Regions from separate parts of the Homo sapiens genome. Here region 2 is linked to region 1. The links come from fine-mapping of genetic effects on gene expression. A gene starts in region 1. The other region holds a variant in brackets. All regions are shown on one strand. Distances are from middle to middle.

What was found. PIP is the estimated chance that this variant, and not a neighbour inherited with it, causes the effect.
Region 2: its variant is fine-mapped to the expression of AGO1 in whole blood (TOPMed, PIP above 0.99).

The regions. Positions count from the first base shown.
Region 1 is chr1:35,876,458-35,889,220 of GRCh38, reverse strand. It overlaps AGO1 (argonaute RISC component 1), which reads right to left and starts at 6,012. Exons shown (of 19, transcript NM_012199.5): 1 at 5,775-6,012; 2 at 611-794. The coding sequence starts at 5,799. RefSeq lists enhancers at 2,103-2,162, 2,800-3,439 and a silencer at 5,790-6,249.
Region 2 is chr1:35,722,823-35,735,167 of GRCh38, reverse strand. CLSPN (claspin) reads left to right here. Exons shown (of 25, transcript NM_022111.4): 25 at 1-3,056. Among named protein-coding and RNA genes, the nearest start is that of C1orf216, 10 kb to the right of the region's middle. RefSeq lists a silencer at 9,227-9,410. The variant A/G (reference allele first, on the strand shown) is at 3,545.

The DNA of each region.
Region 1 (12,763 bases):
GAGAAAAACTCCCTCTCAAAAAAAAAAAAAAAAAAAAGGAAATATCACTTCCTCTAAATAAGGCTAATCCCTCCAACTGTGCATCCTACAACGTCCTTCTGCCTCATCAAGGACATCCCATTCATTTCTCCCCTCTGTCCTTCTGCCTCATCAAGGACATCCCATTCATTTCTCCCCTCTGTCCTTCTGCCTCATCAAGGACATCCCATTCATTTCTCCCCTCTGTCCCATACCTTTAACCTCTCCCTCTTTACTAGCTCCTTCTCCTTAATCTGTAAACATACCCATATCTCATTCTTTAAAACTCTTTATTCATTCAACTAATATTGAAATGTAGTAGGTACTGTACTTATTTCTTAACTCAATGTAGTTAGATTAACTAGCTCAACTACTTTCTGCTGAAATTGCTCTGGCAAAAGCCACTAATAATCTTCCAATAGCGAAGTCCAATTGGACTATTTTTCAGCATTTACCCGACGTGGCATCTCCCGTTCAAAAACTTCCTTAGATTTGGTGATACTACCCTCTACTGGTTTTTCTTTTACCTTTCTGGCCCCTCTTTCAAGGTTGGTGTCTTTCAGATTTGGTGGCTTAGGTGTGCATCACTTACCGGTTGACTCTACGGGGACACTTATCCGGCTTGATGTCCACCTCGTAGTGGTACACGTCGATCTTAGGGATGTCCACCTCAAAGTAATTGGCCAGGAGCTTGATTGGTTTCCCCACAGTGCCAATGCCAGGCCGGCGAGGTGCCTGGAACACCTGCTGCAGGGGGGGCAGGTAAGCGCCCGCAGCTACAAGACAAAGAGGCTGGTGAGGGTAAAGTCTGGCAATCTCCTAACTACTCTTATCAGAGGAGGAACAAGGCCTCCCAGAACAGGAACACGAGAGTATAGAGAATGCCTCTTTCCTGCTACCCAACCCAGCCAAGGGCTTCCAGGGGACATCTCAAGCTCATCTGTGTTTTTTCTCTTTTTTCTTTTTTAATCTCTCTCCAGTTAGGAAAATTATCCTTATTGTCTATTTTTAATTCATTAAGTTAATATATAATAAGTTCCTATTGCATGTTAAGCAGAGAGACTAAATCTGGCTCCTAGTAACAAAACCCTTTCTTTCTTCTAGTAGAGTAAGACACTTGCCTCCACCAGGTATCTAGCAGACCAAGAATTTCTATTCTCTGCCAGCCAGATGCTCACTCCATTCGCCACCATGCTGAATACAAAATGGCATAACCTTGATGTTCCTTTATAGGTGGGCAGGAATAAGATCCAGACAAGGCCAGGCTGGAGAGGGCAGGGTCAGTGTTTGAGGCAGAATTAAGGCAACTGAATGGCGAGAGTTGGAGACAGGGAAAAGGAGAAAAGGCTCAAAGGACAGAGTTTGGAGACTAAGGAAAAGAGAAAGGGGGTTGGAGAAGAGGACAGAGCTGGAGGTCACAAAAGAAAAAGGCCAGGAGAAAGAGAAGGCTGGAGTCAAGGGGTGGGGCAAAAGAGGTTAGGGTTGGAAGCTCAGGCAGGAAGAAACAAAGCAGCAACTGGGGAGACAATGATAAAAAAAAAAGCTTGAATAAAGAAAGAACTAACGGGTTTGGGAAGAAGAGGTGGCAATTAGAATGCTGGAGAAGAGACACTGGCTCTGGGAAGAACACAAGATTCTCTCCATGCCCCACAGATCCTTCCACACAGAAGGTCCAGACAGCAGCAGAAGAGATCAATTTCAAGACAGAGGAGGCCCTTGGGAAAGGGATAGGGTAAGGCCAGATCCAGCTACTTTACCCTCTTTTGCCAGTCTGGCTGCTGTCTCCAGTCTTATTTTCTAGCTTGGGGGGAAGAGAGAAAAAAAGGGAATAATATGCTGCTATTGTTCTTGGCAGTAGAGAACTAGCCCAGGTGGGAGAAGAGAGGGATAAACCAGCCCAGAACCTCCCATTATCAGACTTCTGCTTTCACAGTCAGACAAGCTGGGGGGATGGGGCATACCCTCAGCTGGGGGTCAGGAAGAGGTCAGAACCATTCATGGGAGGGGCAGCTTCCCAGAGCTAAGCTGCTCTGTTTCCCTCTAACCACCTGTCCAAGCCCAGTCCCACTCTGCAGACAGGGAAATGAAGGCCCAGCCTGGATGGAAAAGGTCTTCAGAACTCAGCTACATGGGGAAGGGAAAACCTATCTACTAGCACCTGGCTGCCTACCTCAGAAAGTGCTGGACAGAAATTGCACACAAGCTCACGGACAGACAGACACACATCCCCATCACACACATCCAAACACACACTTAGACCTTGGCAATTTACACTTACACACATATCCTTCACTGCCCTAGACTGAGTTCTTCAAAGGCAGGGACTATATCTGCCTTGGTCACTGTTTAATTTCCAGTGTCTGACACACACACAGGAAGTATTCAACATACTGATATGAAATGAATGAACAAACATATCCATAGACACACCACAAAAACACACAAGCACACACAGCACACAGACACACGAACACCTGCAATTGCCCAGAAACAATTATAAACACTACACAAGACAAATATGCACGTTTGTGGGTGTAGCCAGTAAGAGACATCCTTTCCCTCCCCAAGTTCTTATATTTCATTCACCTTCTTCCCCTCCCAGACTGAATAATCATTTGGGGCCTTCGGAGAAAGATAACTCCTAGAGCTGGGGGGCTAGTTAGAAATGATGGGGGATGGGACAGACACTCTAGCCTCAAAGCCTTCTCTTCCCCAGAAACCCGACTACATACCACACATAGCCTTAGAGCACCTTCCTCTCCAAAGAGGCTTTGGGAAAACAGGGGAGCCCACACCCCCACTTCATCTCCAAACTAGGAAAGACAGCAGGAAGCAGGAACCTCTCTCCCATTACATCCCCCTGAAAGCCTAACAACAGCACTGTCTCCTCCCCGCCCCCCTTACCCCAGCTTTTAGTCTGAGAAAGGGAGACACTTCCCTACAGACCCAGACAGGGACAGACGGCCACTTTGTGATGCAGATGAGGGCCCCAGCACAGAGGACAAAGCTTGGGCCTAGGGGGAAAGGGGCGGGACCCTTCTCTTCAGACAAAAGCAAGGAGGGAGGGGCCCTGAAAAGGACACTCCCCCTCCCCCATCCCCAAGGAGCCCAGAGAAGGAAAAGTAACAGAGCTGAAAACCCTGGCTCAGGATTCCTTTCTTGCAGTTCTGAGGCCCACACACCTCCCAAGGAGCCAGACTGCCTATTCAAAAGACACAAATTCAAGGTTAGGTTAGGTTAGGTTAGCTGGTGGGCAAGCAAAGACTAACAAGCCAATCTCTCCAAAAAGGATCTGTTCCATGTGAGTATACACTTTATTAAATATCCACATACGTGCTTAACCATTTATGTTCACACTTGAATGTGATTTGATTTAATTAATAAACATGTATTCTGTGCCAGGGCCTATACACTAGGCACTTGCTAGTTCTACAAATAAACCAGACACTGCTTCTACCCTCAGGGAGCACCCAGTCCACTGTATGTGCTTGGAACACACCTGAGCACAGAAGGCAGACCTGGGCATAAGCCCAGTGAGGCTAGCAACAATGCTTTAGTTTTTGGGGGGTTTTTTGTTGTTGTTTTTTACACAACGCTTTAGTTTTGTGTATTATGTCCTCAGGCCACCTTGGGACACCACTCTAACTTCTTATAAGAGAACAGTCCGGGCCTAGGAAGGAGGCAGTTATGGGGTCCCTCAATTTGCAGCTTCCAGACTGAATCTCAATTATACCCTTTACTGAGGCAAAGCCTGTCCTATTCGGCTTTTCCCAAGGCTTTGGCTGACTCCAAACAGCAGGTTCTAGCTCCTTTCCTATAAGCTTATTTTTTGTAACAAATTTTTAAAAAGTCAATTTTTCATCACTCCAGAGCCTATTAGGAATTCATCAGGATAAAAATCATTAGTCTAGAATGGGTACCAGCAACCAGCAATCCATGTGGACCTCAATGACCTACCCCACTACTCTAGTTCATGGGTTGTTGGAAATAGTCCCCAGCCTTGAAAAACAGAAGTTCCTGGGATGGAGAGAGGGTCCTGACAGAGAGGAAGTACTCAAGTCAGTTGCTCCCTGTGCTTATCCTTACGACTACACAGTCTATACAAGGCTGGTTGTTAAGAGGGAAAACAGTCACTAAGTACTTAGAGATCACTAAATGGATAACTTGAGTGAGGTCGTAGGAGCTATTTCCTTGGGAGGGTGGGAGGGAGTTAGGTCTGCTACAAAAAAAACAAAATAATTCCACTAGGAAAGTAATGAAGTTCATGGCCTAAATGGAAATTTGATTCCCATCCCCAGACCAAATGTAAGGAAGTGGTGAGAGATGACCTGAAGGATTCCCAGGTCCAGGCTCCTCGTCCCATCACAGGGTAAGACACTTAAGACACAAGAGGTATCACCACCCCACAGCCCATCCTAAGGACTCCAGTTTTCTTGAGGCAATCCTGCCTCAGTTTATCCTCTGTTCCTATGTCTTTTCCTCCTCATTGCCTGCAAATAAGAAGTTAAGGCTATCACCTAGGCCTCACCAGGATGAAGGCTATAAACTCCCCCATCCTCCAACGTGTTTGTAGGGTTTAGATCTTGGCTCTAAAGACAGCCCTGACAGTTTCTGGGGAGTGGGGAGAGGAAAACGGAAAGATATCCAGTGGAAGATAGGAGCCATGAAAATATTAAGAAATATTAGAATAAATGTTATAAATGTAGAGTGTAACCTTAACAGACAATTCAATGGAAAATCTTTGGATTAAAAGCCCCCATCACTACTCAGTATTGGAGCAGAAACTTGCAAACCAAGCAGACAACTCCTTCCAGGTAGCCCCTGCCCTGTCCTTGATTCCTCCGTAACCAATACCTTTCCTAAGGCCTATCTTCAGGAGGACCCACCCCCAGAACCCATCGCTTCGGTCCCAGTCTTTCCTGTGGCAGAAAAATGCACTTTGGCAGCTTCCCTCAACCCATTCTTAGCAAACTGTGACTGAGGGCCAAGTGTAAGAGCCCCTAAAATGGGGGAGGGGACCATAACCATTTGCACACTGCCAGCATAACCTAAGAGAGAATGCACCCCATCAGCGCGCTCCTTTTTCCAAGCCAAACGGGGCGGGGCGGGGGGGTGTGGAGAGGTGGGGGTATTCGGACAGCCACGCCCCCACCACGTCGGGCAGCCCCTTCCAGCTGCCACCTCCGCGCATGCTCTGGAGCCTCCGCTCCGACTCCCCAGACCCACGGGGGGTAATCCCGGGACTGGGTCCCCACCCACCGCCCCCTGACCCTCGCCCTCGCGTCAGGCCCAGTGGGGCGGAGCTCACAGTCCAGCTCTGGCGCCTTCTCCCAAGAGACATTAGCCTATTCCAGCCCAGCGGAGCCCCCGCCCCCGGCATGCGGTAGCTCCAGGCCCATCTGTGTCGCCCCCTCCTCTCCTGGACACCTGGAGCCCGTCCCCTGCCACCTGCCGGGCCTCTCCGTAGGCCTCCACGGATGTCTGGGAGTCCTTCCGTGCGTGCAGGCCCTTCTCCCAGATTACTTCCAACCCGCAGGACTGTATACAGCCTCCTTGGACAAACAGCCCCCATCTCAGGGCTCTCTTCACATGGTTCTCCCCCGGAACTGCACACAGCCTCCTTCAAACTGGGCCCCCATCGTGGGAGAGCCCTTCTCCTCACTCAGGAGCGCTTCCATCACTTGGAAACCACGCTTTTCATGCGGGATCCCCCAGTCCTTGGAGCATGCACCGTTCCCCCTCCTGGGGACCCTTACCTGCTCCCGAGGGTCCCGCTTCCATCCCATATACCCGTGCGGAGGTCAGGCGGCCCGGAGACTGTGAAGTCCAGCGTGAGGGGCCTAGGTACCCCACACTCTCGCTGCTCGGGATCCCGGGCCGGGCTCGGCTCCCCTACCAAGCCCGGCCGCTCGCGCCGCCGCCCCCGCAGCCTCCGTTGCCGCCGCCGCGGAGCCTGCAGCAGCTCCCACTGCGAGCGCCCGGCCAGCTGCCAGTGCGCAGGCGCGACCGCCGGGCCCAGGGGGCGGACCGGAACGAGTCAAGCGGGGCGCTCCGACGGCAACAAAGGCCAATGGAGAGGGGCGGGGGCACCGGGGACCCAAGGCAGCGGCCCCTGGCGGTCACCCGTCGCCATGCAGCCCGGCGGGAGGGCGCCAGTAGAGGTGCCTTGGAACCGCGCAGTGGTATAAGTGGGGCAGGGCGAAGGGACATCCCGCCACAGCAGCCTTCAGCCCTGTGTCTTTTCCCCAAATAGGTCCCTCCAAACCTACACACAGCCCCCGCCTGTCGCACCGAGCTGCGCGCACACATTATGGGAACCCCACTTCATTCCCAGACCCCCTGGCACTCCAGCGCCCAGGGGCCCTGCCTCCCACCTCTCCTCCCAATCACCCTCATCCTTCAAGCCTTGGCTGCAAAGCGACTGCCTCCACGAAGTCTTTCTCCGTCCCTAGTCACTGAACTCACTGACGCCACCCCCTCTTCCACGCCATGTGCTGGACGCTGAGACCACAGATAAGTAGAGACGCGGCCTACCCTGGAAGATGTCACAGTTTGAACTTAAGTGCAGCTACAGAGCTCTATCCGCCGGACCTGGGAAGCACCTGCCTCCACTTTCTCATCTACAGTTCATGCCTGAACTGTCAATCAGCTTCTGCCCTCATCACGTCACTTAAATGACTTTTGGGGTTGACATCCAAAGGATACTTTTCAATTATTTCTCTGCAGCATCTGTCACTGTGCCTCTACTTCCCTTCTGAGCCTTCTACTTGGCTGCGGCATCTTCTGCAGTCTCCTATTGCCTAAGTCCTTTTCAGTCTTTCTAAAGGGCCCCTTTTGCTTTTGCCTCATTAACTGTTCACTGTGGTTCCAAACCCAGCTCTCTTCTCATTCCACTCTCCCCTTAAAGGTCTCATCCACTCTTACGGCCCAACTATCCTTCCAAATCTCTGTTTCCAACCATGTCTCATACTCACATTTCCAAGTGTTTGCTGGACAGCTCCACCTGGATATCCTACCAGCACTTCAAATTTAAGAAGTCCAAACCAAACACTTTATCTTTCACTCACAAACATACTTGCCCTGTGCTTCCTATCTCAGCGAACAGCACCTTCATGTCAGAAATGACAGTTCCTCTATCCCTTGTTCTTTCCATCTATTCAGCTGTTCACCACGTCTTGACATGTTTACCTTCTGAACTGCTCTCACATGATTCACTGCCATTCTGATGGTTTCTTATGCTGGTGCAGACCCTTATCATATCTTGCTAGACGTATCACAACCACTTCCTTGCTAGTCTCAAAGTTTCTGGGAACTCCCATTCTCCCTCCTATTCGGTCTGGTGCAGTGATAGGCGGGGTAAGAGACCCAGCTCAAACATCACTTTCCCATAAACTCACAAATTTTTGATGCCTGCTTTACACTAGATGCCATGCAGAGGCTGGGAACTTAAGGGATGGACCATAACCGGTCCTTACTCATGAGGAGATTAATTTCTGACACTTATACCATGCCTTGCTTCTAGAGGTTCTCAAACAGCAACCATCAGAATCACCTGGAAAGCTTGTTAAAACTTGGATTGGTGGCTGGGCGCAGTGGCTCACGCCTGTAATCCCAGCACTTTGGGAGGCCAAGGCGGGTGGATCACCTGAGGTCAGGAGTTCAAGACCAGCCTAGCCAACATAGTGAAGTCTCGTCTCTACTAAAAATACAAAAAATTAGCCAGGTGTTGTGGCAGACACCTGTAATCCCAGCTACTCAGGAGGCTAAGGCAGGAGAATAGCTTGAACCGGGGAGGGGGAGGTTGCAGTGAGCTGAGATCACGCCATTGTACTTCAGCCTGGGCAACAAGAGTGAAACTCCGTCTCAAAAAAAAACAAAAACCAAAAAACAAAACTTGGATTGGTAAGCCCTGCCTCTAGAGTTTTCGATTCAGTAGGTGTTGGGTGGGACCCAAAAATGTGCATTTCTAACAAGTTTCCAGATAAGGCTGATGATGCTGCCGATCTGGGGACTATGAGAATTACTGCTTTACATACGAAGTAGAGGTGAAGAACAAAGACTCTGGAGCCAGACTGTCTCGGTTTCAATATTGGCCCTGCATTTACTAGACATGTAATAGTAGGCACATTATTTAACTTCTCCGTGTCTCAATTTCCTCCTCTGTAAAATGGCAGTGGTAATAGTACCTACCTCATTCGGTTGTTGTGAAGATTAAATGAGTTAATACATAAAAACACTTCAGTGGCCGGGCACAGTGGTTCACGCCTGTAATCTCAGCACTTTGGGAGACCAAGGCAGGCAGATCACCTGAGGTCAGGAGTTCGAGACCAGCCTGGCCAACATGGTGAAACCCCATCTACACTAAAAATACAAAAATTAGCTGAGCATAATGGCACACGCCTGTAGTCCCAGCTCCTCGGGAGGCTGAGGCACAAGAATCGCTTGAACCTGGGAGGCAGAGGTTGCAGTGAGCTGAGATCATGCCACTGCACTCCAGCCTGGGTGACAAAGCAAGACTCCATCTCAAAAAACAAAAAACAAAACGAAACAAAAACACTTTAGAACAGTGCCTAAAAAGAATGCAAGCAAAATATCAGCTGCTATCATAATCATTACTTGCCTCTCACACTATATTCTTTTTTTGAGACAGGGTCTTACTCTGTTACCCAGGCTGTAGTGCAGCTGCACAATCTGGACTCTGCAGTCTCCACCTCTCAGGCGCAAGTAATTCTCCCACCTCAGTCTCCCGAGTTGCTGAGACTACAGGTGCATGCCACCATGCCTGACTTTTTATTTATTTATTTACTTACTTATTGTAGAGATGAGGGTCTCGCTATATTGCCCAGGCTGGTCTTGAACTCCTGAGCTCAAGCAATCCCCCTGCCTCAGCCTCCCAAAGACTCTTCTTATGGAATGCTGAGGTCCCAGCTCAGTTACACTAGGGCAAAGGTCCCAGCTCAGTTACACCAGGGCAAAGGTGAGCTACCACACCTGGCTCCACACTACCATCTAAGTTCCTTAAAAACAGGGACAATATCAGATACACTGCTGTCCTCCTTTAGTGCTTGGCACAAGCTGTGCCTAGAATGATCAGTAAATTTGGGTTTACCTGAATCAACAAGATGGCATCAAAAAGCACTCAGAAAAACTCTCAAAAAACTCTCAAAGGTCTCAGAAAGACCTCTGCCCTGATGTAACTGAGCTGGAACCTCAGCATTCCATAAGAAGAGTCTGACTCCCCTGTTCTAAATACTCAACCTCATACTTAACTTTGTGCAAAGGCAGTAGTCACTATTCTGACCCATCTCCAAAGCAGCTAGTGAAGTCAAGCCTGGCCCCAGCCTCTCAAAGTCCTTCTGTACAGTGCACCTATAATCAGGGACTTCACTCTCAGCTAGGCAAAGTGGCAGAGTAAAATGGAAATCCAGATAGCATTTTGCTTTTTTTTTTTTTTTTTTTTTTTTTTTTGAGACAGAACCTCACTCTGTCGCCCAGGCTGGAGTGCAGGGGCACAATCTTGGGTCACTGCAGCCTCTGCCTCCCAACTTCAAGCAATTCTCGTGCCTCTGCCTCCCGAGTAGCTGGGGTGACAGGCACATGCCACCACACCCAGCTAATTTTTGCGCCATGTTGGCCAGGCTGGTCTCAAACTCCTGACCTCAGGTGATCCGCCCACCTCGGCCTCCCAAAATGCTGGGATTACAGGAGTGAGCCACTGCGCCCAGCTGCATTTTACTTTTTTTTATTTTTTTTTGAGATGGAGTTTTGCTCTGGTTGCCCAGGCTGGAGTGCAATGGCACGATCTTGGCTCACAGTAACTTCCACCTCCCGGGTTCAAGCGATTCTCCTGCCTCAGCCTCCCAAGTAGCTGGGATTGCAGGCATGCACCACCACACCTGGCTAATTTTGTATTTTTAATATAGACAGGGTTTCTCCATGTTGGTCAGGCTGGTCCAAACTTCTGACCTCAGGTGATCCACCCGCCTCGGCCTCCCAAAGTGCTGGGATTACAGGCATAAGCCACCGTGCTCAGCCCCTGCATTTTACTTTTTTATGCTGATAAACTTCTTTCAGTAATCCCTGATATATGTTCCACCAAACCTATTGGCTCCTTCTGTTTCCATTTCATCCTTGCATCTCAGTCCATAGCTAACTCACACCTAAGGGCCTCTGCTGTGTGGGCCAGAGTCTTCTACTTAGATATCTTCTCTATACAAAGAATTTCCTGGAGCCAATATAATAAGAATGGCCTGAGAAAAGTTTGCATCCCAATCTACATTTTCCTCTTTTAATGTTAAAAAAAAAAACAACTGAGGAAAAAAAGAAATCAATGTAGTATAATTAACAGATTAAATAAGTAAAAGGATTCAAAAAAATAACCAAAAATCTGTAGCATTCACTGCTGGTACCAGTAATAACTAATTATGATAAAATATCCAATTCAAAATTCTTGGAAATAAACTTCATGAGATGTATGTGATTTGTATGAGAAAATCTATAAGAACCAATAAGAAGACATACAAAATAACCTGAGTTAAGAAGAGAAAGAGGCCGAGTTCCTGGACGGAAAATAATGTAATAATGTCTATTGGACATTTGCTACTCCAGCCTCCAAGTTCTGAGGATGAGCATCAGGTATCCCTACCCATCCCCATGTAGTGTGCCCCAGAAATTCAAAGATACAAGGATGTAATTGAGCCAGTCCATACCGCTAAGAAGAAACAAATACATATATCAGTGCTGTCCAACAGGAGTATCATATGAGCTAAATATGTAATTTTAGAATTTCTTTTAGCTATGTTATAAAAATTAAAAAGGAGCCGGGCGTGGTGGCTCACACCTGTAATCCCAGCACTGTGGGAGGCCGAGCCGGGAGGATCATGAGATCAGGAGATTGAGACTGTCCTGGCTAACAAGTTGAAACCCCATCTCTACTAAAAATACAAAAAAAATTAGCCAGGCATGGTGGTGGGTGCCTAAAGTCCCAGCTGCTCGGGAGGCTGAGGCAGGAGAATGGCGTGAATCCGGGAGGCAGAGATTGCAATAAGCCGAGACTGCACCACTGCACTCCAGCCTGGGTGACAGAGCAAGACTCCATCTCAAAAAATAAATAAATAAATAAATAAAAATAAAAAGGAAACAGGTGAAATTAATTTTAGTAATATATTTAACCCCCCAAATCAACATAGCAATATAAAAATTACTAATATTGGGCCGGGTGCAGTGGCTCACCCCTGTAATCCCAGCACTTTGGGAAGGCGAGGTGGGCAGATCATGAGGTCAGGAGTTCAGGACCAGCCTGGCCAATATGGTGAGACCCCATCTCTACTAAAAATACAAAAATTAGCTGGGCGTGGTGGCGCTCGCCTGCTACTCAGCTACTGGGGAGGCTGAGGCAGAAGAATCACTTGAACTCAGGGGGCAGAGGTTGCAGTGAGCCGAGATCATGCCACTGAACTCCAGCCTGGGTGACAAAGCAAGACTCCTTCTCAAAAAAAAAAATTACTAATATTTTATATTTTTATGTAAGTCTGAAATTCAGTGTGTATTTTACACATAACACATCTCAATTCAGACTAGCCACATTTCAAATGCTTAATACATGTGGTTAGTGGCCACTGTACTGGACAGTATAGATGATAATTTCAATGAAACTTTAAGTGTAATGACAGAGGCACATGGGCGACATGGGAACTAAGAGGAGGTATGTCTAATCTAGTCTGGGATAATCAGGGTAGGTTACATAGAAGAGATATCTACTTAAACAGGCCTGTGAGGATGAGCAGGAATTAGCCAGGCAAAGGAAAGATGGGAGAAAGGTGTACTAAGCAGCATTAACAGAAAGTATGAAGTGAGAAATAGCACATTACACCAGGAACTATCAGTAGTAATATTCTTGCATAAAAATGGAAGGAAGAAGCACTGAGAAAAGAAGCTAGAGAAGTATACCATCACGAAATCTGCCCATTCGCTCCCTAGCCCAAGCCAGGGGAAAGGCAGCAAAGGTGACAGGAGGAGCTGTCCCTGGTTCTGACACTCTATGCAGATTCACGGTTCAGTTTCACCCAGCCTGAAACCGAACTGACCCAGATCAAGCCTATTTTCCTGCATCTTCTCTAGCACACACGAAGGCCCCAAAACCCTAAACTTGGCCTGGCAGAACAGGAAAGCCTAGCAGCTTTGGACAGGCTGCCCTGGATGAGCACAGGCAATAGAGTAAGATCCCCTCTCTACAAAAAATAGAAAAATTAGCCAGGTGTGGAGGAGCATGCCTGCAGTCCCAACTACTCAGGAGGCTGAGGCAGGAGGATCACTTAAGCCCAGCCCAGGTGGTCGAAGCTGCAGTGAACCATGACTGCACCACTGCATTCCAGCCTGGGGGACACAGCCAAAGCCTGTCTCTTAAAAAACAAAATTCTCTATAGCATGCAATACTGTTTGATAGCATTTTACCCACAGTAGAACTTCCCTCAAAATTGGAGTCAATCCTCTCAAACACTGTCACTGCCATATCAACTAGGTTTATGCAATATTCTAAATATATTGTTGACATTTCAACAATGTTCACAGCACTTTCACCAGAGTCAATTTCACCTCAAGAAATCACTTTCTTTGTTCATCCATAAGAAGGATTTCCAGCCGGGCACAGTGGCTCACACCTGTAATCCCAGCACTTTGGGAGGCCGAGGTGGGCGGATCACGAAGTCTGGAGATCAAGACCATCCTGGCTAACACGGTAAAACCC
Region 2 (12,345 bases), 150 kb after region 1:
TGGGACTGAATTCTCAATTTGAAGCACTGTTGTTCAAAGATCTCCCTTCTGGGTCTGACAAGAAGAAACATAACCCTTATTTATTGCATTCTTCTGGCTTACATACATTGCCCTCACTAATCAATGGACATTTCAGCATTTCATTACTAATTTTGAGAGAAGGCCACCATGGAATTTAATAAAAATATTATTGAAGAGAATTGCCATCATTCTCCATTTTCCCTGAACTACCACAAGCTTCTCAGAATTTTAGACAAATGTTTTTCCCCTCAGAACTGAGCATCAGTGCTGCTTTGGAAAAACATTCCATGTGAATACTGTGGTTTCAGTGTCAGGACCTGTACTTGGGCAGTTGGAAGAGAGTGTGCCAGTTTTTTACTGGGAGATGGGAACACCAATTTAATTGATGCAATTAGGTTGTAGGTTTTTTACAGTTTTTCTTTTCTTTTCTTTTTCTTTTTCTTTTCTTTTCTTTTCTTTTTTTTTTTTTGAGACATAGGCTGGCTCTGTCACCTAGGCTGGAATACAATGGCATGATCTCGGCTTACTGCAACCTCCGCCTCCTAGGTTCAAGCAATTCTGCCTCGGCCTCCCAAATAGCAGGGATTACAGGCACCTGCCACCACTCCCAGCTAATTTTTTGTATTTTTATTAGAGATGAGGTTTCGCCATGTTGGCCAGGCTGGTCTTGAACTCCTGACCTGAGGTGATCCACCCGTCTCGGCCTCCCAAAGTGCTGGGATTATAGGCATGAGCCACCGCACCCGGCCGGTTTTCTACAGTTTTCTAATACTCAAGATGTTGACTTTGACAATACTTATGTTTGTATACTTGTAATCTTATAATGGGGAAAATGTGTATAAAGATGTTTTAATATGTATGTAGTTTTTCAATAAATCTTAATGCCTTGAAGGGAAGATTTGCTGTCCAGCTTGAATGCTCATTCTTGGGTCAGTGCCTGTCTAACCTTGAGGAGCATTTCATTTTCAGGTTATCTCCATCCCAGGGAAACCCTCTGGGTCTAAACTGAGAAGCTGCTGCAATTGTCCCCTCACTGGCTTCTCAGTCCTAGTGAATTGATCAAGTTAACTTACCAAGTGGTTTGGGTTCAGCTCAGGTGAAGAGGATAATTGAGTTTACATAAATGGTACCTTCTATTATAGCTCTTTGTTTAAAAAACTTATTTTTTAGAGACAGTCTCATTCTGTTGCCCAGGTTAGAGTGCAGTGGCACAATCATAGCTCACTGTACCCTTGAACTCCTGGGCTTCAGCATCCTCCTTCCTCAACCTTTGGAATAGCTGGGCCACATTACAGGCATATGCCACCATGCCCAGCTAATTATTTTATTTTAGTAGAGACAGGGTCTTGCTGTGTTGCCCCAGCTGATCTTGAACTCCTGGCCTCAAGTAATCCTCCCACCTTGGCCTCCCAAAATGCTGGGGTCACAGGCTCAGCCACCATGCCCAGCCTGTTACAGCTTTGATTGGCCTTTCTCTTTAGCTAAGTTTGTATGTACTTCATTTTATCCATGGGTTCAAGATACATGTTTTTGCCTCTTTCTTTGAACTCTCTAAACAGTTCCCAAGGCAAAGTAGCCCTTGCTGGGCAAAAGAGAACTGAGCAGGAAGGCTAGATATTTCTTCCCTCTTGTTTCCCTACATGTCTTTTGAGGAGAGATAGAAAAGACAATTGGAATTGACAACTGAGGATAAGAAAATTCAGCCAGGTCCGGTGGCTCACGCCAGCACTTTAGGAGACTGAGGTGGGTGCATTGCTTGAACTCAGGAGTTCGAGACCAGCCTGGGAAACATGGTGAAATCCCAACTCTAAAAAAAAAAAAAAAAAGAAAAAAAAAAGAAAATTAGTGCCTGAGAAATCCAGGGAGAAAATGGTTTCTGGGCTGGGCGTGGTGGCTTATGCCTGTAATCTCAGCACTTTGGGAGGCTGAGGCAGCTGGATCACCTAAGGTCAGGAGTTGGAGACCAGACTGACCAACAAGGTGAAACCCCGTCTCTACTAAAAATACAAAAATCAGCCAGGCTTGGTGGTGGCAGGTGCCTGTAGTCCCAGCTACTTGGGAGGCTGAGACAAGAGAATTGCTTGAACCTGGGAGGCAGAGGTTGCAGTGAGCCGAGATCACGCCACTGCTCTCCAGCATGGGCGACAGAGTGAGACTCCCTCTCAAAAAAAAAAAGAAAGAAAGAAAATGGTTTCTGATTGAGGCTCCTGGGAGAAAGCACTCTTTGGAGAAAGAAAACTTGAGTCAAACTCTGGGTTACTTTTCCTTATGCCAGGATGGCTGCTATAAAGTAAGCTAAGCCTTGATCTTGGTAACAGGATTGACATGGACAGTTTCAATCTGACCCATATGCCCTTTGCCCAAAGCACTGAGCCAGCAGCATCAGTTATGTTTTAATGAAATTGAAGCCCCAGGACCTGCCACTATGGCTCTGAGGAGGACTCAGCTTCACTAGCTTGGAAATTACATATTTGGAGGGATGAGAGCCCATGAGTGTGGGAGATAGGGTAGGCTCAGTGTCAGTGTTTTTGTTTCTTCCTTGTTCCATACACTTGAGTAGGGATACATGGTATTAACCTCTTTAAACAGGTCTCTAATTTCATCTCATTAATTCACAGTTGCACAGCCATACTAGGGTCTCTTCCATAAACCATAAGATTTTATTCACCAAAGCTCTAGAGACAAGGTACTCAGATCTCTGTGGCATCCCTCATTTTCTCAACTGCTTCTCTACAAACTTCTCCTCACTTTGAGAGTTTCTAATGCTCAGGCTGGGAGACTTTTTAGGGGGTGTTTTTGGTTTTTATCTCCTAGGGTTATGTCTAATCACTCTTGTGGCATCCTGTCCTGGGATTTGTGCTCCTAAGGATAGAGGAGAGTATTTCTGGGAGGAGTGTTCCCATGATACTATTTGATTATGTCATCCTTGAGATGGTATTGTATCTTCTACCCTTATATCCTACTCATCGCCTGGCACACAGCTTGGAATGTAGTGGTGCCTACCACAGTTTGAATAAATAACACTACACCTTTCAGAGCCTCTGTTTATAAAATGAGGATACTAAGTCATGGCTGTCTCAGAGTTGCTGGGGGGCTTCAGTTGGAAAATGTATGTCAGTGCATTATGTCAAGTGCCACTCTGTAAGCATAAGAAATTGCCAGTAGCTCCCAGAAAAAAGAAATTCACCTCCTTTGAGAATGAAAGAAATTACCAGTATCACAATTATATCATATATTGTAGGCCACTTCTGAAAGGCCCATTGTTTCTCAAATATCTCAAACTTAAAATGAAAATGTGATCTTCTCTAAAAACCTGCTCTTCCTCCTGTATTTGCCATTTCAGTAAAAGGTACCTCCATATATCCAGTCACTCAGACTGGAAATCTGGAGAGCATTCTTGACCTGTTCTTTAATCCTGTAATCAGACAATTTCCAAGTTCTGTTATTTCTACTTCCAAATTGCATCTGGAATCAGCTCATTTCTTCCAGCTCTATGGCCAGCCCCCTGGTCCAAGATTCCACA[A/G]TTTCTTTCTAGGGTCCTACCGTAGCCTCCTGACCCCCCCACTTCTGTTTTTGCTTCCTTTTCATCCAATCTGCACAGCAGCCAGAGGCGACCTTTATGTAAATATAATTTGGAGGATGACACTTCACTACTTAAAATCTTTTAATGTCTTCCGCTGCACTCAAAGTTCAAACTTCTCATGGCCGATGCATGACATAGCTCTGCCTCCCAACCTGCTGTCTACTCTTCTTTCTCATGACATGCAGCCTCAGGAGCATCTAAAGTGTCCTCTTTCCCTGGAATGCCCTCCCCTACATCCATCCTCCTTCTTTGTCTGACTAATGCATAATTCTCAAGGTGTTAGCTTAAGCCTAATTTCCTCAGAGAAGCCTTCTCTGACCATTAACACCCCTTTCTTTTTTCTTTCTTTCTTTTTTTTTTTTTTGAGACAGAGTCTCGCCCTGTCGCCCAGGCTGGAATGCAGTGGTACGATCTCGGCTCACTGCAACCTCTGCCTCCCGGGTTCAGGCGATTCTCCTGCCCCAGCCTCCCAAGTAGCTGGGATTACAGGCATGCGCCACTACACCCAGCTAATTTTTGTATTTTCAGTAGAGACGGGGTTTCACTATGTTGGTCAGGCTGGTCTCGAACTCTTGACCTCGTGATCCGCCCGCCTTGGCCTCCCACAGTGCTGGGATTACAGGCATGAGCCACCAAGTCCAGCCTAACACCCCTTTCTTAATTAGGTTACCTTTGTATAAGTTTCCTATTCTTTTTTTTTGAGATGGATTCTCGCTCTGTCGCCCCGGCTGGAGTGAGTGCAGTAGCACGATCTCAGCTCACTGCAACCTTTGTCTCCCCCGTTCAAGCAATTCTGCCTCAGCCTCCCAAGGGGCTGGGGTTACAGGCACGCACCACCACACCCGGCTAATTTTTGTATTTTTGATAGAGACGGGGAAGGTGTTAGCTTAAGCCTAACTTCTTCAGAGAAGCCTTCTCTGACCATTACCACTCCTTTCTTAATTAGGTTACCTCTGTTTGAGTTTCTTGTTCTTTTTTTTTTTTTTTTTTTTTTTTAATATGGATTCTTACTCTGTCACCCAGGCTGGAGTGCAGTGACGTGATCTTGGCTCACTGCAACCTCGGCCTCCCGGGCAATCAATTCTCCTGCCTCAGCCTCCCAAGTAGCTGGGGTTACAGGTGTGCACCACCACATCTGGCTAATTTTTGTGTTTTTAGTGCCCAGCTAATTTTTGTATTTTTAGTAGAGACGGGGTTTCACCATGTTGGCCAGGCTGATCTCGAACTCCTGACCTCAAGTGATCCAGCTACCTCAGGCTCCCAAAGTGCTGGGATTATAGGCATGAGCCACCACACCCAGCCTTAGGTTTCCCATTCTTTTGGGTCTGTCATCATGATGTGTTACTTTAATGTTCGTTGAGGCTTGCTTTCCCTACTAGACTGTAAGTGCTGTGAAAACAGAGCATATCCGTTTTGTTGAAAAATGTATGCTTTGGGTAGCACCATGCCTGGCACATAAAATAATTCAATGAATTTTTTGAGCAATGAGTGATGGGAGGCCTGGAAGAGCTAATGGTGAAAAGCATAGAGCTGAATTATATACAGAGGAGCTTTCTAGTGCAGGACAGAATAGAGGTGTAGAGCTTTAGTCCTTGCTCTTTCTGCAGCTTGTAAGCATCATGACTTTGGGTAAGTCAGTCTCTTTTTTCCTCAACTGGAAAATGGGGCTCATGTGAAATGACTTGGTTTAGCTCACAGGGTATGGTTAGGATCAAAGGTACAAATTAATGTGAAGTGAATGTACATATTTAAGAGGCTGCACTAATGCAGGCTAACTCACTGCTGAGGAATGGGTAGAGCTGAGTGGGAAGGAGAAGCCAAGCCCCAACAAAGCTCCATAGTCCACCATTGGTGGCTAGCTATGTGCTGAGACTTGTTATAGCAGTAGAAATGGAGGCCTGTGTGTATGCCTGGACTCCAGTGAACTGGGGAGATAGACGTGGCTTGTGTATGGCTGGTGTCACCTCAGATTTTACCTTTTGAGACCAAGGTGCCTGGTTTCTGTCCCCAGTAGTTTTATTGTCTTGGTCTGTACCATCCACGTCCTTCCCATCCCCTCTTTTTGTCCTCTCTCCTCTCACCTTAAAGGTTTTTCATTTTCAGTTTATTGATTTAGTTCTACCCTGTGGTGGGATTCATAATGGGAAAAGGGAGTTTGAAGTAGCTACAGCCTAAGGGTGATTGGAAGGAGTTGGGGTGGACACCTGAGTTCCTTCCCTTCATTTTAGAGAGAACCGTAGTCCGCGGAATTCTTGATGGCTGGTGGGCTAGATGTAGGGTTGAAGAGGCAGCTCCCAGCTCCAGGCTGGAGAATTATTGCCTAGTCCAAGGGGTAGAAAGTGCTGAGGCAGGGTTGGGAGTGAGCCGTGGTTTGGGTTTTTTGGCCCTCATCTCTTTTTCTCAGAGGCTGAAGGAAGGAAAAAGGCTGACTGCCCACCCTTCTGTTTGTTTGTCTTGTCTAATTTAACTTACGTTATTTATCAAAAAGACAGGTTATTTGGAAAACCAGATGGACCTAGGCAAAAATCATCTGGGTTTTCCAAACGTGAAAAATTAGGTTCTGGGGGCCCAGCAGGAAAGGCGTGTGTGTGTGTGTGTGTGTGTGTGTGTGTGTGTGTGTGTGTGTGTGTGTGTGTGTGTGTTTGAGGGGAGGGTGAGGTTGAGTGAATGTCTCTGTAGTTAGACCCAGAAATTGTTCCATGACTTCCAAGCATACTCCCTCCTTCATTTTCCTTCAAGTTCTTTATGATTAGAATCTAAATGAGAAAATTAAAATCTTCATGTTGGTTGCTGGATGTCTTAATTGACCAAGGATTAGAACCCATCAGGGCTATAGAAGAACAGCAGCTGACAGTTTTCTCTATCTTTCCAGCCCTCAGTCCCTTACACAGAGTGGGCAGGTTAGTGAGAGGTGCAGGGTACTGAGAGTTTTCTGAAACAGAAACCTGTGCTTCTTGTCCCTTCAATGTTATTGTTCCAAAGAGTTGCAGCAAATATGGAGGTTAGACATTAGGGAAGAACTTATCATCAACTTTCTGATGATCAAATGGCTAAAAGAACACTGAGGATCCAGGGCTGTCTCTCCATTGACTATCCAGGGAAGGAGCTAGCCCAGTTTTCTTTTGGGCAATGGTGGCTTGCTCTGTAGCTACAACCAGGAATTTGTAAAACTTGTGGTTTTGGGCCAGGCATGGTGGCACATGCCTGTAATCCCAGCACTTTGGGAGGTTGAGGTGGGGGGTTTGCTTGAACTCAGGGGTTTGAGACCAGCCTGGGCAAAATGGCGAAACCCCATCTCTACAAAAAATACAAAAATTAGCTGTGCATGGTGGCATGCACCTGTGGTTCCAACTACTTGGGAGGCTGAGGTAGGAAATCACTTGAGCCTGGAGGTTGTGGCTGCAATGAGCCAAAACTGCAGCATTGCATTCCAGTCTGGGTGACAGAGTGAGACTGCCTCAAAAGAAAAAAAAAAAAAAAAAAAAAGCTTGTGGTTTTGTTACCTTGAGCAGCAACATTTTTAGGAAGGAATTAAAGCAGGAGGCTATTGAGGCATAGCTCTTGGCTGCCATAGAGGAAATGTTCTGGCTGAAAGCAGAAAGCAAGCCATCCAGTTCATACACATATGCACACACACAGAAGACAGCCAAGACCCTTTCTGGCCTGAGAAATCTTTGGCGGCAGCAATAGCACTTGTCCCATTGTGAGTGGCATTTTTTTCAAAGTGTCATTGGACTGTGAAAGCTACTTAATAACTTGATCTCATCTGAATAATCTGAGTTAATACTAGCTTCACAGTTGTGAGGATTAAATAAAAAAAAATTGTAAAGTGTCTGCCTCAAGGCCTGGCACAGAGTAAATCTCAACAAATGCTCGTTGAATGAATGAATCCATGAATCTGAGCATTAAGGCCCCCCTCACCGTTTCCAAGGATCAGTGCATAACAGCCCCGGTAACTGAGACTTGTAGACTGTCCCAACTGAGCCTGCAGCCTGAGGCATGATCTAAACCTGCTGTTCCTTTGACAAATATTTGATGAGTTATGGTGTGGAGGGTGGACCCTTCCATGAAGGCCTTGTTGGCCTAGCTGTTGGAAGCACTATGCAGACAGTCTTCCAGGGTGGGAATTGCCTCAGAGAGCACCTTGCCCAAGGTCAAGGATAGCCCACATTCAATGGCAACAGGTGTGTAACGGCCTGGCCTTCTTAGCTTATTTTGGGTCAACTCTGAAGGGCCATTCTAGCTTCAGAGCTCCCTGTGGGGTTGGCTGAGGCTGTCACTGGCTTGTCTTGTAGATCAGCCTCTTCCTCTGGCCACTCCTGCTCATTCTCATTCTTCCACAGCTGTTGATCCCAAAGGAGGTTCTTAATAAACATCCAGCACATTAAACAGTCTCAGAGTTGGCTTCCTGGGAAATCCAAGCTATGAATGCACTAGTCCTGGTGGCCAAGCCTTTAGAACAACAAAGAACGGAGACTCCTTTGCAATGGATTTCCAGCGTTGGAGGTGTGGATACTGTCTCTTTATGCCCACCAGAGGGCAGCAGCATCCTAGCCACCTGCCCTTCTGAGGCTCCAGGAGTGGGCTTGAAGCCTTTTCCCCGGCAACTTCACGCCCCACACCAGTATTGGGCAGGATCACCTCCCTTAGGGTGTTCACCCTCCTGACTAAAACAACAAAACTTTCTTAAACTGTCCAGGCCTTAGTTTTGTTAGTCTCAAGCTCCTGTACCACCATCACTGAAGGCCAATCAGTCTTCCTACTGTGCCCCTTCCCCTGCTCCTCGTCCGGCAAGCTCCGTGCCTGGGATCCCCCACCTCTCACACTTACCACCCACAATAGATTTGTTTTCTGTGTGACAAGGTAATTACAAGCTTGGGGCCAGTAGGCCCAGGGGCCAGTCTGAGGATGGTCACTTCATTCTGGCTCTCCCTGTTCTGCTAACGGTATTGATTTTCAGTTTTATTTATTATGATGATGTGTGTGTGTGATCTGGCCCTGGTGACATGACATATGGAGGCAAGAGGGCGAGAGCAAATTTCCTTTTGTCACAATTTGACTTCTTGAAACCGCACCCCCACCACCACCACCCAGCATTGTTTATTTACAGGTTTTAGCATCTTTGCTTACCTGTCTTCATTCTGTCCCCTCATCCCCAAAGATTTCTAAGAGATTCTTCTGGGAATTGGAGCCAGATGGATGTGACTACAAGAAGGAGGAAAGGGTCTGGGAAGAGGAGTGACAGCAGCAAGCATACTACCTTTTGTTAGCAGCCATTAACTCATCCAGCAAACATTTACTACATTCCCATCACCTGTCAGTTACTTCTAGGCTAAGCTCCCCAACTCCCTGCTGGGGGCCATCCTGGAGACAGGTTTTGCTATGCGCTTTTTTTTTTTTTTTTTTTTTTTGTCTGCATCTGTTTCTATGGGTGTGTGAGGAAAACCTGGCCAGAAAGCTTTGAGAGAGTGAGATTGAGTTTGGGTGCAACCAACTCAAAGAACGATGCTTGCCTGAATTTAAGGCTACTTAAGGCCTCCCGTAATGTAGTCTACTTCCTTACGAGGAAGAGGAAGGGCAAGCTTGAGGCAAAACATTACAAGTGGGAGGGGGCACTCTGAACTGCAATGATTGCCGTGGGAATCAGCTGAGGCTGAGGGCGATTTGTGGGGCCATGTTTCCCCAGCCTGTCTTCTCTGTGCGTGCCAGGAGAATGAATAAATCATTGTTCAGGGGCGGGATGCAGCTGCCGAGCTCCTCCCCTCGGCACATGCCCCAACTCCAGCTCCTCCATTGAGGGCTGCTGGAGCAGAGCGGTTTATACACCCAGCTCCCCAAATCCTATTGAGGCCTCCCCCTCCGCACGAGCCACCGGCTCCAAGCCCATTCAGGCTGGCCCTTTGTGCTGGGGGTTAAGTGGTTACATGTGGGGGGCACCCAGAAAGGAACTGTCAGGCCTTGAAAGGCTGTGCTGATACAGTGCCCTCCTACTGATGAATGGGGTGGGTGGAGGAGAGGTGGGCGGCCGGAGGGTGGGGTGGGGGAGAGGGCATGGGGATTATGGAGCCCACAGAGGCAGCTGCTAGGAAGGGGGTGGAACAGGCACCCCCTTCTCTCTTTCCTCCTTCACTTCAGCTTCTCCGTCTAGCTTACTCCCTCTGTTGTGGGCACTGGATGATCAAGAGCCTTGGGACCTTGGATTTGGCTTTTCTGATGTCCTGGTGACCGCTTGAGTGCACTGGAGAGAAAGAATTTATATTACCTTTCATTCTTCCAGCAGCTCCGAAAAGACCTGTTTCTCCCTTTTCCCTTGGAAGGGGTGGGTGAGAAGGGGAACAGTGTTGGGGACAGGGGGAGGATTCATTTCCTAGGTTCATCTGGTGCAGTGGATTTGCAGCTGTGCCCTGCCGAACTTTTAAAAGCTTCTCTGAAGTTCCCTCGGAGCCCTTAGGTGGAGGGTTTAGGGGAAGACAGATCTCAAACTGGATATATTGGAAAGATTTTGTTGAGGAAAAAGAAATTACTTCAAGGCTCTAAAAATGCTTTAAAACTTCTAATTGAATGTACCGCCTTGTCATTTTACAGCTGGGAAAACAGCCAAAATGGAAGATAGGGGAATGGGCATATTTTACCTAAGGTAAACACATAGTAATTTCTTGATAGACTAAAGAGGCACTTTACCTTTAAGAAGCAGTAGAGAAATGGATGAACAAAACAAGTAGGTCATCAGCTTCCTAGGCCTTCCTTTCCCAAGATGAACCAATTCTGGGGAATAATGTTCGTTCCAATCTGCCTTAATGGCTCTTTGGCATGTCAAAGGTCCTCTGGGGTTGTGCCTGGTCTTGGGAGCCCAAGTGACAATGTTCACCACTATGTTATTGAACAATTTTTAAGGCATATTATTTTATTTAGCCCAAAAAGGTTAAAATGATTTGATTTGCCTAAGTTCCCAAAGCCATGTGGGGAAGTTGACAGATGATGTGACCTCAGGAAGAGAGAAGAAAGCAGGTTAGCAACGTAGTTTGTAATCCAGGATCGTGCTTTGTTCTGATATGGAAACTCTGAGGGCTTCCTCAGTTACTTCCCTGCTGTCCCCAGGATGGAGCCCAAGCTCCTTGGGATGGTGTCAAGAACTTTCACAACTGGGCCAACTTTATCTTCTAGCCTCACCTTACCTCCATTTCCCACCGAGCTCCAGCCACACTGGCCTACGGGGTGTTTCCTGAACTCACTCTGAAAATGCAGTCTCCTATGCCTTCTCTTGCTTTCTCTTGGTGAGCTCTTATTCATCCCTCAAGGCCTGGCTCAAATATCACCTCTGTGCTAGCTGGGTTTAGTGGCTCATGCCTGTAATCCCAGAATGTTGGGAGGCCAAGGTGGGAGGATCACTTAAGGTTGGGAGTTCGAGACCAGCCTGGGTAACATAGCAAGACTCCCATCTCTTAAAATAAAAAAAATCACCTCTGTGAAGCCTTTCCTTACCCTTTTCTGGGCTTACTACTTTTGCCTCCTGGCTCTGTTGCAGGGCCCATTACATTGTTATAGCCCACTCTTCTGTCTATTCCTTTTCTTTGAGACAGGGTCTGGCTCTGTCACCCAGGCTAGAGTGCCGTGGTGTGATCTTGGCTCACTGCAACCTCTGCCTCCCAAGTTCAAGCAGTTCTCGTGCCTCAGCCTCCCAAGTAGCTGGGATTACAGGCGTGTGCCACCATGCCCGGCTAATTTTTGTATTTTTAGTAGAGACGGGGTTTCACCATGTTGATCAGGCTGGTCTCAAACTCCTAGCCTCCAGTGATCTGTCCGCTTCGGCCTCCCAAAGTGCTGGAATTACAGGCATGAGCCAACACACCATGACTTCTGTTTCCCTTTCTAAACAAGGAGCTCCCCAAGACCACGACCAGTTCTGATTCTGCTCTGAATTCCCAACACAGTACCTGGCACAAAGTAAGCACTCTGTAACTGTATGATACATGTAAATGAATGGGTGGGAAGGGACAAGGTCTTTGAAGCTGAAACACCTTGATCTTACCCACCCCTTTCTTCCTGAGAATACTGATATTGAGAAATTATCCACCTATGAATAACCCTTAGGCCTGTCCTATTTCCTGGATGAGAAATTCCTCTCATCTTCTCTGGTCTCCTTGCCTGACACCCCAGGCCCTGGGACCTGGATCTGGCTACTCACTGCTAGCCTCTCTTGGCTCTGACATCTGTTTGCCAAGAGGCTTACCCGCTGTCCATCATTGGGTCTTGATGGCATGGCCTTTTGCAAAGCCCTGTTCAGGCTGATACTGGCCATCTCTGGAGGTTTCTGTGTCCTTGCCACTTAAGTTCCTGGCATATATGTGGGTAGGTGAACCCAGCCACAGATACCCTTTCACTTGGGGGTGAATTATTCTCTGGTGTCCTCACTGGAAAAGCCTCTGGCAAATGAATAACAGGCATCTCTATAGCTGCTTTTTTGTCTTCCTGTGGACATGGACATCCCTGCATTTGGAGCTTTTTTTTCTTCAGGTTTTGAGCTCTGAAAATTATGGAGTGACCAGGACTGCTGTGTGAGCACTGACTGTATTAATTATACAGTGCTAGAATATTCCATACAACACTGCCCTTGATTAACAAAACTGGCTACAGGCTGGGTGTGGTGGTTCACGCCTGTAATCCCAACACTTTGGGAGGCCGAGGTGGGCAGATCACTTGAGGCCAGGAATTTGAGACCAGCCTGGGCAACATAGTGAAAC